Homo sapiens: one gene and its partners. The protein of the gene in region 1 purifies or fractionates together with the protein of each later gene. This does not show direct contact. Each region holds a gene or a part of one and is shown on either strand. Other genes may lie near its edges.

What was found. Proteins that work in one complex are often made in the same cells at the same time.
Region 2: the proteins of ZNF284 (region 1) and NKTR purify together in Homo sapiens (affinity purification with mass spectrometry; one large-scale study listed by BioGRID and IntAct). This does not show direct contact.
Region 3: the proteins of ZNF284 (region 1) and GINS2 purify together in Homo sapiens (affinity purification with mass spectrometry; one large-scale study listed by BioGRID and IntAct). This does not show direct contact.

The regions. Positions count from the first base shown.
Region 1 is NC_000019.10:44,081,505-44,086,508, reverse strand, and holds part of ZNF284 (zinc finger protein 284), read right to left. Parts: intron 4,497-5,004; coding exon 4,404-4,496; intron 796-4,403; coding exon 1-795. UniProt on the Homo sapiens protein: May be involved in transcriptional regulation.
Region 2 is NC_000003.12:42,645,686-42,649,235, reverse strand, and holds the end of NKTR (NK-tumor recognition protein), read right to left. Parts: intron 3,349-3,550; coding exon 3,261-3,348; 3' UTR 501-3,260; downstream 1-500. UniProt on the Homo sapiens protein: PPIase that catalyzes the cis-trans isomerization of proline imidic peptide bonds in oligopeptides and may therefore assist protein folding. Component of a putative tumor-recognition complex involved in the function of NK cells.
Region 3 is NC_000016.10:85,682,455-85,685,954, reverse strand, and holds part of GINS2 (DNA replication complex GINS protein PSF2), read left to right. Parts: intron 1-3,500. UniProt on the Homo sapiens protein: Required for correct functioning of the GINS complex, a complex that plays an essential role in the initiation of DNA replication, and progression of DNA replication forks.

The sequences.
Region 1 (5,004 bases):
TGTATAGTTTCTCTTTTGTGTGGTCCATGCAATGACTATTAAGTGCTGATCTCTGACCAAAGCTATTACTACAGGTATCACATCTAAATGATTTCTCTTGCATGTGGACCATGGAATGCCTATTAAGATTTGATCTACTATGGAAGCTCTTACCACATATATAACATTTGAATGGCTTCTCCCCAGTATGGATTCTTTGATGTTCCCGAAGCTGGGAATTGTGAATGAAGGCCTTCCCACATTCCTCACAAATATGAGGTTTTTCTCCTGTGTGTAATTTGCAATGAACATACATTCCTGATCTACGGCTGAAACTTTTCCCACACTGCTCACATTTGAATGGTTTCTCTCCAGTGTGGATTCTCTGATGAGTTTGCAGTTGTGAGTTCTGACTAAATGCCTTACTACACACATCACACTTATAGCGTTTCTCTCCCATGTGAACTTTCTGATGAAGACAAAGAGCTGAGCTATAACAGAATCTCTTCCTGTACTCATTACATGTATGGGATATCTTTCCTGAGTGTAATTGTTGATGAAGATCAAGGATGGAGACATCACTGAAGAATTTTTTACACTTCCCATGCTCAGAAGGTGTCTCTCCTATGTGAATTATAGATAGTCCTGCGTCAACCTGGGAGGGGACATCACCTTGTGTGGAGAACTGAGAGCTACTTATGGAGTCTTGAGGTCTAGTTAACTCACTTGCAGTTTGTTCCCAGATTTGCTGGCAAGACCACTCTTCATGTGGTCCTGTTTCTGGAACAGACTCCAACTCAGTTTGGATCTTGCCTCCTATAAGGACACAGAATTAAGAGATGTGGGTAAGTGAAACCTTTGTTCAGTGTTTTCAGGATTTCACTTAGGACATGGCCTGAAACTTTACTGAATACAAGGAAGGTACAGTTTGTGTTTTCCAAGTGCACCACGGTCTCTCGTTGTCACGAAACCAATTTTGAATGACATAATGTCTCATACGTGGTAGAAATGAAAGACTTAATTTAAAATATTAATATAATACAGTTAATGTGTTACTATTTCTACCAATTTCCTAGTTAGTCTAAAATCTTGCATGGTATATTATGTAACTACTAAATTATATATGTGATGAATCAGAAGGAACGTTAAGGGTAGGAGGACTTCAAGATGGCTGACTAAAGACACCCAGAGCTTGCGTCCTCCACAAAGAGCCAAAATAATGAGTAGTGCTCACTTCAGCAGCACATATGGTAAAACTGGAATGATCAGCCCCTGCACAAGGCCGATATGCAAATTCATGAAGTGTTCTATATATTTTATTACTAAAAAATTTAAAAAGCAAATAGATACTCATACATCAAATAGCATCTAAGAGGGATCACTGGAATTCAGCAGAGAAGTGACAGGAAACACCCGAAGCACAAAAGGAGAGCGAAGGGAGGTAGCCCTTCTGGCCGTGATCACCTGAAAGCCGGGAAAGGCTCCTAGTGCTGGGAAAGGGTAAGTGAGAGAGCCCTAGTGGTTTACATTTCCGCTGTGCACTCCAGCAATCAGCCATGAGAGAGGCCCTCGACCCCTGTGGGCCCTGAGACTAGCACAGGGGGCTACCTGGAGTCCATGCAATGGCACTCAGAGAGGGTACTCATGATGGGACCCACACACTTCCTGAGACTCAAGCAGCTATGGCACAGCGCTATTTTGAGAGCTGCACCCCCACCAGACTGCATCTTGCCCTGGGGCCCAACAGCCTTTGCATCTCCAAATCCCTGAAGCCCCATGGACATGCCCCCACATCCACCCAGAGGGTTACAATAATGCCTGTTAGACCCAGCAGTATGGCAGAGTCCCCAGCAATCTAGGCCACATAGTGTCCCATACTCTAGGGAATGGGCCGTGAAGGACACCAGGGAGGCTGCCCCCAGTACAGTACAAAGGGACCCAAAGTGTGTGCACTCACCAGAGCTTGAAAGCTGCCTGTCTGGGGCTGCTGCCTCTAACGGCAATGCTACCTCACCCCCAGCAGCAGGGCCACTGTACACTCATATGTGTTCTCATTCTGAGGAAAGTTTCTCTGCACACTCTGCCACTGCCACCCAAGCACACCTCCTAAAGGCATGGGGAGTCCCTTGCACTGCCCACCACAACCTGTGCCCGTGCACAGGACAAGCCCACTTCACTTGGTACCGCCCATCTCAGTGCCAGAGCATGACACAGAGGGACCTGGGGATTGCTCTACCCTGTGTTGCCTCAGGCACATGTGTGCACAAACAGGAGACCTGACAAAGACCCAGCTTGTGTGCTGCCAGTGCTGGAGCATGCCATCTGGGGACCTAGGGATCACGCCGCCTCTTCCACCACAGCCTACATCTGCCTGCACCACTGAAAGGCCTGAGGACAGGCTCACCTGGCCTGGCGTCATTCCTCCACTACCTAAGCATACCACCTGGGGCTGTTGAGATCACCCTGCCATGTTGGTTGCCCCAGGCATGAGCATGTACCATGCAGGGAGCTTTACAACAGACCCAGAACCCTGCCGCAGGTGCCCAAGCATGCTGTCTGGAGACCTAAGGATTTCCCTGCCCTGATCACCACCACTGGCATCTGTATACTCCTCCTAGTGACCTGAGGACAGGTCCTACAAGCCTGCTGCCACCATCACCGCTGACACTCACCTGCACACACCATGTGGGGGCCTCAGGACTGGCCCACCCAGCCCATCACCACTACCTCTAACACCGGTACACATAGCCTTAAAACCTGAGGGTTATCCTGCCACCACTATTGGGTACTATGCTCAGTACCTGGGTGACAGGATCATTTGCAATGCAAACCTCAGCATCACACAATATACCCAGGTAACAAACCTGCACATGTACCCCCTGAATCTTAAAATAAAAATTGAACAGCTAAAAGTCCTCCTCTTAAGACATTCCATTCCAGTGGGTAGAGATGACAGCTAAATAGAAATATATAAGACACAGTATAAGACAACACCAGAAGGGTAAAGATAGGATGGTATTCCATTCCCTCTCTCTCTCTCTCTCTCTCTCTCTCTATATATATATATATATATATATATTTCTTTATTTATTTTTTGAGACAGAGTCTCATTCTGTCACCCAGGCTAGAGTGTAGTGGCACAATCCCAGCTCACTACAACCTCTGGCTCCTGGGTTCAAGTGATTCTCACGCCTCAGCCACCCGAGTAGCTGGGATTACAGGACTGTGCTACCACACCCAGCTAATTTTTATATTTTTAGTAGAGTCAGGTTTTGCCATGCTGGCCAGGCTGGTCTCAAACTCCTGGCCTCATGCTATCTGCCTGCCTCAGCCTCCCAAAGTGCTGGGATTACAGGCATGAGCCACCACGCCCGGCTGGTATTTTAAATAGAGTGGTCAGAGAAGGCCTTTCTCATGATATTAAAACTGAACAGAGACCAGAATAAAGGAAGGGTCAGAAGGTCTTGAGGTGAAAGAGTATTCCAATCAGAAAGAAGAGCATATATAAACTCTAAGACAGAAGCTTCTGTAGTAGACAGAACAATGGTCCTTGAAAGATGTCCACATCCAATTCCCAGGACCTATGAACCTGTTATGTTATATAGCAAGAGATATTAAGGCTGCAGATGCAATTAAGGTCACTAGTCAGCTAAAGAGAGAGTAAGAAGGTCATTCTAGATTATGCAGGAGTGACCAATCCAATCGCAAGGGACCCAAAATGTGGAAAACAGAGGCTTAAGAAGGGTGGCAGATGACTATGGAAGAATGGTTAGAGATGCAATGTAGCTGCTTTTGAAGATGGAGGAAGGGAGACAAGAGCCAAGGAGTGTGGACAGTGCCTAGGGATTGGTAAATTAAAGTGAAGGCTTCTCCCCAAGAACATCTAGACAGGAACAAAGCCCTAGGGACACCCTGATTTTTGTCCAGTGAGATGTGTCAGACTTCAGATCTGAAGAACAGAAAGATAATTGTTTGTTGTTTAATCTGCTAAGTGTGTGGTCACTGGGTGACAGCAACAGGCAATACAGTGTCCTTGGCAGGATGGAGAAACAGCAGGGAGTACAACGTGGCTGGAAAATGGAGATGTAGTCAGAGAGGCAGTAGGGGATGAAGAGCAGATCAAGGGTCTCTAAAAGGCACTTAAAGCAGTTGTAACATTAACACAAATAAGAAGCCATAAAGGCTTTTAAGCTGAGGAATGGCAATCTGACTTACATTCCCTAAGGATCACTTTGGCTGCTATGAGGAAAACAGATGTCAGGGTGGGAAGAGGGGGTGGGGGAGCAGGACAACCAGCAGGAAGGAGGTAAGAATCCAGGAAACAGGTTTGGCCATTTATACCAGGGCAATGGAGTTGGGCAATGGACAGAAGTAAAACAGATGGAAGGGTCACGTACAAGGATGCATCGTTGCTTGGTTCTTACCTGAATTCCCTTCTCTTTGGGTTGCTGTCTCCATGATCCAAAACTTTTCTTCTCTTTGGAAGTGAAAAGTATCTCGGTGGGAAAGTTGATGCCCTGTGAACAAAGTCACATGCTTAATCCCAATACATCTTAGGTAAAATTTACTAGAAATTTAGGTTCTCACTGCACACTCGAACTTGAACACTGATATGGTTTGGCGGTGTCCCCAAATCTCATCTTGAATTGTAGTTCCCATAATCCCCACATGTCATAAGAGGGAGCTGGTGGGAGGTAATTAAATCATGGGGGCAGTTTCCTCCATGCTGTTCTCGTGATAGTGGATGAGTTCTCACGAGATCTGATGGTTTTATTTTATTTATGTTTTTTGTTTTTGTTTTTGTTTTTGTTTTTTTTTGAGACGGAGTCTCGCTCTGTCGCCCAGGCTGGAGTGCAGTGATGCGATCTCGGCTCACTGCAAGCTCCGCCTCCCAGGTTCACGCCATTTACCCGCCTCAGCCTCCTGAGTAGCTGGGACTACAGACGCCCGCCACCACGCCCGGCAATTTTTTTTGTATTTTTAGTAGAGACGGGGTTTCACCGTGTTAGCCAGAATGGTCTCCAT
Region 2 (3,550 bases), on another chromosome or scaffold:
GTATTCACTAAGAAAATAGACATTCCTTTCAGTTCTGAGGAGACAAAAGTTAATTGTACTTCCCCTGCAAATTCTTATGTGTATACTAAAAATATCACCATGAATGTTTTCTCTGGGAGTGAGTGACATGTGCTGCACTGCCTAGTGCGCTGCCGTTAGGGAGGGAAATGTAGAGGCTGTAGGTAAATGGACTGTCTCTAGGTAGAAACTCACACATGGGATGTGACATATTCCTCCCTCAGCAAAGACATCTTTATGCAGGTCATTTTAACTAGATGACAACAAAGTGTAGAGGAAATCTGGATTTTCCAGGGGAGGAAGACCAAACATCATTAATGCTTACCTGTGTAGGTTAAAATCTCTGCCTGACATTCTCTCTAGCTCCACCTCCTACACCCACCACTAACACTCAGCTAGGAGAAGAAAAGGAGCTGCCAAAGGAGATGAGGTGTCTTCACTGGCTGGGTCAGCAGAAAGATAAAACATGAACAGACTCAGACTTAGACTAAGTATATATTTTAATTTCTACAAGGTCCCCTTTCAAGTTTTAGGGAAATTTAACTGAAGTGTATACAAATTAGACATTGCTAATATGTACAAAAGTATTTTATACAGTTTTTGAACGATACTAGCTATTTGCAATAAACAGGATGTTACAAAAACAGTCCAATAATGCATTTCCTATTAAGAAGCACAATACACAACATAATTCAATTTTATTAAAAAATAACTTCAAAATGTAGAACAATCCCCTTTAGGAAGAAAAGCTATTTCTGTAGTTCACTCTGTCAGTAAACACACAAGTTGAACGCTGCAGCAGAGGGCTGTCCTTTTCCATGGAGAAAAGAAATGAGGCTTCTAGGGCCTATCTTTTCTGGGTAAAAATTCCACCTACAGCTGAGATGGGCAGTTATTGCCTGTGGTAGGCAGAATTTGAAAATGCCCCTCCCACTTTCAATGAGCTAATCTCCAGAACCCGTGAATATGATGAGATGAGACAGTACTCCTGCAATTATGTTCTATCGCACAATCAACCTTAAAATATATCTGTGGGCTTGAGCTAATCATATGCCCCTAAAACAGGAGGACGGGAGAGAGATATGAAGCATGAGAAAGAGCAGGAAGGCTGGTTTGAAGCTGGAGGGGACCACATAAGAAGGAATGCAGGCAGCCTTGAGGTGAGAGAGGGGCCTCCAGCTGAGAGCCAGCAAAGAACTGAATTCCGCCAACAACCTGAATGAACTTAGAAGCAGATTCTTCCCCAGAGCCTCCATGAAGGAATGTTGTCCTGCCAACCCTTATTTCAGCCTTTAAGACCCTGAGCAGAGAATCCAGCCACACTGTGCCAGACTCATGAGCTACAGAACTGCTATGGGTATTGTTTTTTAAACTGCTAAATTTGGGGTAATTTGTCACACAGCAATAGAAAACTAATACACTGCCCAAGGGTAACTTTTCTTAACCTAATTACATTTGGCAGTTTCTGCTTGGGTTCTGAATGCATTTTTTTCCTGCTGACTAGTAGTAATATTCTCCTTTGCAGGCAACCTTTGGAAACCTTTAATATAAATCATACTGTTTTGTATTCAGTATCCAGTATTGTTTGTTTGGCCTAAGTCCTGTTTTCTAATGTACTTTCTGTCTATTGACCTGGCAAACAACTGACCACCTTACCCTGTTTTCATACCTTCTTTGGGTGATAGTTTTAATACATTCAAGGGCACCCTCCCTCCACCAAGGGTTGTCAGCTCCCTCCAACTGAGGGCTCTTTTCCACTTCCCAAATACACCAGACAAGGCCTGTGGTAGGGTGGTGCTGAGCTCTACATCAGGCAACCAATATGAATTTCTTCTGCATAACTGGATTAAACTGGCACTAAGGTGATTAAGTACACTTGGGGAACAAATTCAAAGTAAAGATTAAAAAAAAAAACCACACACACACACACACACACACACACACACACACTAGTTTTTACAGGTCCAATTATTTTTGGAGGAACCACCCAAAGCCATGAAAATATGTAATTTATGCTATACCCTCTATCCCTCTTCCCCTGTCTCTTGCACCTGGGTCAGGTCACGCAAGGCTTTGAGTCAGCTGCAGGTCACAGTGGAAATAGGAAAAACATGCTGGTTACAACAGTTCAGCTGCTGTTGTGGTAATATCCTGTACTTGAAAGACTTGAAAGGAAAGCCCTGCAAAATGTCTCCAGGATGGTGGCAGTTAGATTTTTGATGTTACTTTTGAAGTCCATTCTTCACTCTTCCAGAGGCACACACACACAGTAGACTTGAGTGGCCAATATCTCTTACTGCCAATCCTGCCTGCTCCAGGGGACCCCAACCCACATCTGTACTTGAGAGAAGCCCCCCAAATAGTCAAAGTGAAGACAGCTCAGAATAAACCATTTTTGGTGCCAGTGATTTTGTCTGAATTTCATTTTTATGGTATTTTAATATATGATATATAAGAGTAATGCTTAAAGACGCACCAAAAATTACCAAGCACCAAAGCATGAAGTAGAATTGTTTTTATAACCTAAACTTCTGATCGGTATTGATTAAAAAGAACATAAAATAGTAAGTCCTCAGAGACAGTGCAGGTATTTATAGTTAAGGCTGATTGATTCTTCCTAACCTTGCCCACAAGCCTGAAGTAATACAGACTGTGTGGGATGTATGATGACCACTTTCCTAATCCTGTGAAGTATCAAAGAAGTTAGGAATGAATTAAGAACCCCAGAGCCACTGCCTTATACTCCTGGTTACCAACAGTATCAATTCTGGGTGGTTTGTTTTTAGAGCACATATGTACAAGACTCTATGTAATCAGTATATAAATATTTGGCCGCCTTTAACAGTTCTCCTTCACAGTTCTATGCTTGGCAGCATATATGCTAAAACTGGAAAAACAGGCAAAAAGAATCTGTATTCTAAGGGATACGTAAGATAGAGTGAAATAGACTTAAAATAATATTGCAAATTATACATAGATAAATTTCACGATTTCTTGATTCAAGAAAATGAAATTCATTTCCATAGTTGGCTACTGTAAAATGTGGCATAAAAATATTTTTAGGAGACATATCTGTATTTTAAATTCTTCTCCCCACATGTAAATGAACCAGTAACAATTAAGAAGTGTCTATTTTTGAAATTCACCTCTGATATTGAAATAGAACAACAGACTGTCATTACATTTCTTAAGCTAAGTTGCCAGATATTTACAAATAAGATATAATTTGTATCCGGACGTTTTCAACTGTATCTGCTGCTCTCACTGGGGCTCCGGTGATGAGAGTAACTTCGGTCACTTTCACTGTCAGAGCCATAAGATCTACAACTCCTGTAATAACAAAACAAAATATATAAAAATCTTGTAACTGTAAAATCTTTGAATTCCTCTTATAGCTTGTTTTTTATATGAGTGGCTTGAAAACATCAATAGTGTTTTCAAGCCACTCATATAACTGATGCACTATTGATGCAGCATAACACAGAGGTAGGGTACTGACTATGGCAACACCATGGACTTTTCTTTTTCTTTT
Region 3 (3,500 bases), on another chromosome or scaffold:
TGAAAAGACCCTGAGTGATTTTTTTTTTTTCTTTTTATGGAGATGGGGTCTCAGCCGTGAGTGATTTTGACTGCCCCCTCCTTACTGGGACTTATTGGGGGTACCTACCTCCTAGAAGCAAGAGCTCATTGAGCCAGCCACTCTGGGGTCCGTTTAAGACAGACTGCTTAGTGTCTTCCCCTTGCTCCCTGTCCTAAAGTGGCAAGTGACTCAGGTAGTCCTGAAACATAATGGGAAACCCCAGTTCCTCTGCTTTGAGACGGTTTTTTTTTTTTTTTTTTTTTGAGAAAGGGTCTTGCTCTGTCACCCAGGCTGGGCTATAGTGATGCAATCATAGCTCACTGCAGCCTTGACTTCCCAGCCTCAAGTCATCCTCCTGCTTCAGCTTCCGGAGTAGCTGAGACTACAGGTGTGCACCATCATGCCTGACTAATTTTTTGATTTTTTTTTTTTAGTGGAGATGGGGGTCTTGCTATGTTGCCCAGGCTGGTGTCAAACTTCTGGGCTCCAGTGATCCTCTCAGAGTGCTGGGATTACAGATGTGAGCTGTTGCCCCTGGCCGGAAGGCTTTTGTAGAGGAGAGGCTCACCAGGCCTGGCTCCATTAATGCAGCATCCTCTCCAGGCCCCTTGTTTAAAATCAGTGTCTGGCACTTTTGTCCCATCTAGACCCCAGGTGATAACATGGCAAGGGCCTGTTTTATCGCAGGCTAGAGTCAGAAGGTGTGGAGAGTTCCCCTTGAACTTTTTACCTGGGCTGGAGCCATATTGTGGGAACAGTGAGGCACCATTAACCTGTCTATAGACCCTACCCAACAGCCTGCTGCCTCCTGACTTCTGCACCACAGATAAGTTCTGCCTGTTCTGGGCCAGGCGCGGTGGCTCATGCCTGTAATCCCAGCACTTTGGGAGGCCGAGATGGGTGGATCACCTGAGGTCAGGAGTTCAAGACCAGCCTGGCCAACATGGTGAAACCCTGTCTCTACTAAAAAATACAAAAATTAGCTGGGTGTTTGGTGGGCGCCTGTAATCCCAGCTACTTGGGAGGCTGAGGCAGGGAGAATTGCTTGAATCCAGGAGGTGGAAGTTGCAGTGAGCTGAGATCGCGCCACTGTACTCCAGCCTGGGAGATACAGCGAGACTCCATCTCAGGAAAACAAATCCAGTTCTGCCTGTTCTGGGACTTCATGTAAATGGAATAATCTAGTATGTCATTTTTTGTTTCTGATTTCTCTTATCCAACACTGTTTTTGAGATTTACCTGTTTACGTTCTCAACACCGGGACACAGAGCTCAGCTCCCAACCCCTTTCTCCACTACTGAAACTCATATTCACACCACCTGGCTATGTTCTTTCATTGCTGGGTACTCTCCATACTACATATTTGTTCACCGATTCTTCTGTTGGTAGATATTTGGGATTCCCCTTTTTGGCTTTAACAAAAAATTTAGAGACAGGGATTTCTCTGTTGCCCAGGCTGAATTGCAGTGGTTATTCAAAGGTGTGATCATAGTGAATTGCAGCCTCCAACTCCTGGGCTCGAGTGATCCTCCCATCTCAGCCTCCCTAGTAGCTGGGACTACAGGTGTGCATCAATGTGCCCAGCTCATTTTTGGCTTTTGAGACAGTCTCTCGCTCTGATGTCCAGGCTGGAGTGCAGTGGCGTGATCATGGCTCACTGCAACCTCCACCTCCTGGGCTCAAGCGATCCTCCCACTTCTGCTTCTTGAGTAACTGGGAATACAGGTGTATACCATCACATTCAGCTAATTTTTATAGAGACAGGGTTTCACTTTGTTGCTCAGACTGGTTTTGAACTCCGGGGCTTCCACCTCGGTCTCCCAAAGTGCTGGGATTACAAGTGTGAGCCACTGTGCCTGGCTCATTTTTGGCTATTCTTAATAAGGCTTTTGTGAATATTCTTGTCCACGTCTTTTCATGGATATGTTTCTTTTTCCCTTGGGTAAATAAATACCTAGAATGATGGACTTGCTGGATCTCAGGGATAATGCTTAACTTTGTAAGAAACGGCCACCTGGTCCTTCAAAGCAGCTGAGCCTTTATCCTACAAGAAATATGAGTTCCCATTGTTCCATGTCCTGGCCAAAAATTTTGACTGTAGCTTTTTTATTTGCTAGAAAGTTGGACCAGAGGTGTTTCATAAGCTGATTCAGATGTTAATGAAAGGATCACTCTGCTGTGTAGAGAAGGTTGGTGCAATAGGAGCAGGGAATGAATCCAGGCAAGCACTGAGAGTGGCCTCTGGCTGATGGAGGTGGGAGATGTGGTAGGTGTCTAGGTGTGTTTTGAAGGAAGCAGCAGCAGGATTGGCTGAAGGACTGGCCATGGGGTGTGAGGGAGAAGAGTGAAAGCTGACAGCCAGGCTCTTGGCTGGAGGCCCAGGAGAGGGAGTTGCTGTCTCCTGAGGTGGGAGGCTGCAGGAGCAGGCTGTGGGCTGCAGTGGGTATCAGGAGTTGGGGGTTTGAACTGTTGTGCTTTCTGGATATCCAGGAGGAAGTTACAGCAGCAATGAGGTTATTGAGTTAGGAGTTAGAGCTCAGGGGCTGATGGGGGTATAAATTTGGAGGTCTTTCTGAGCATGTGGGTAGCATTTGGACGAGGTGGTGTGGATATGAGTTTAGGTAGTGAAGAAAGGGGTTGGGAGCTGAGCTCTTTGTCCCAGTGTCGAGAGGTCAGGAGGAATTGCCAGGAGACAAAAAGGGGAGCCTAGTGAGTTCATAAGCAAGCTCAGAGGGGTGTTCACGGAGGGCCTTCTTTTTAAGGCTATATCTATTAGTGTGTTTGGGAGGATCAAGCAAGGAGGGGACAGTGATCATTTAAGAGCATGAGAGCTGCTGGAGTGCCTTACTGTGCAGGTGAGAGGAGGGTCCAGGACACCTGGAAGGCTGGTCCTCGAGTGGGTAGGAGCTACACAGGGAGTTTGGGGGATGGGGTGGTGTGTGGGTCACACTCAGCTGGGTGTCAGGTGAGAGGTGGGTGGTGGGTTGAGGCGGTGCTGGCGGCAGTGAAGAGAGGGTGAGTAGACCAAGGAATTGGGCCAGGATTGCAGGACGGCACCAAGGGCCCTGGGGATGGGTAGTTGGCCGTTTACAATGGGACCCTGCAGCGTAGCTGTGCTCCGTGCTTGTCCCTTAGCTATAGTACACAGTCTGCTCCCAGGACAGGTTTCTCTGTAGAGGGGGAGGGCTGAGGGAGCTGGAGCATGTGTGAGAACAGTGCTGATGCTGGTGGAATTGGATACAGCTGTTTGATTCTAGACGCTGGGCTTTCACCCCTCTAGGATGTCATGCCTCCTCCCGGCTGGGGTGGCTTAGCCCTCTAGGATATTGTATCGTGCCCAGGCTGGGGTGGCTTAACCCCTAGGATATTGTATCGCGCCCAGGCCAGGGTGGCTTAACCCCCCTAGGATATTGTATCACGCCCAGGCTGGGGTGGCTTAGCCCCTAGGATATTGTATCACGCCCAGGCTGGGGTGGCTT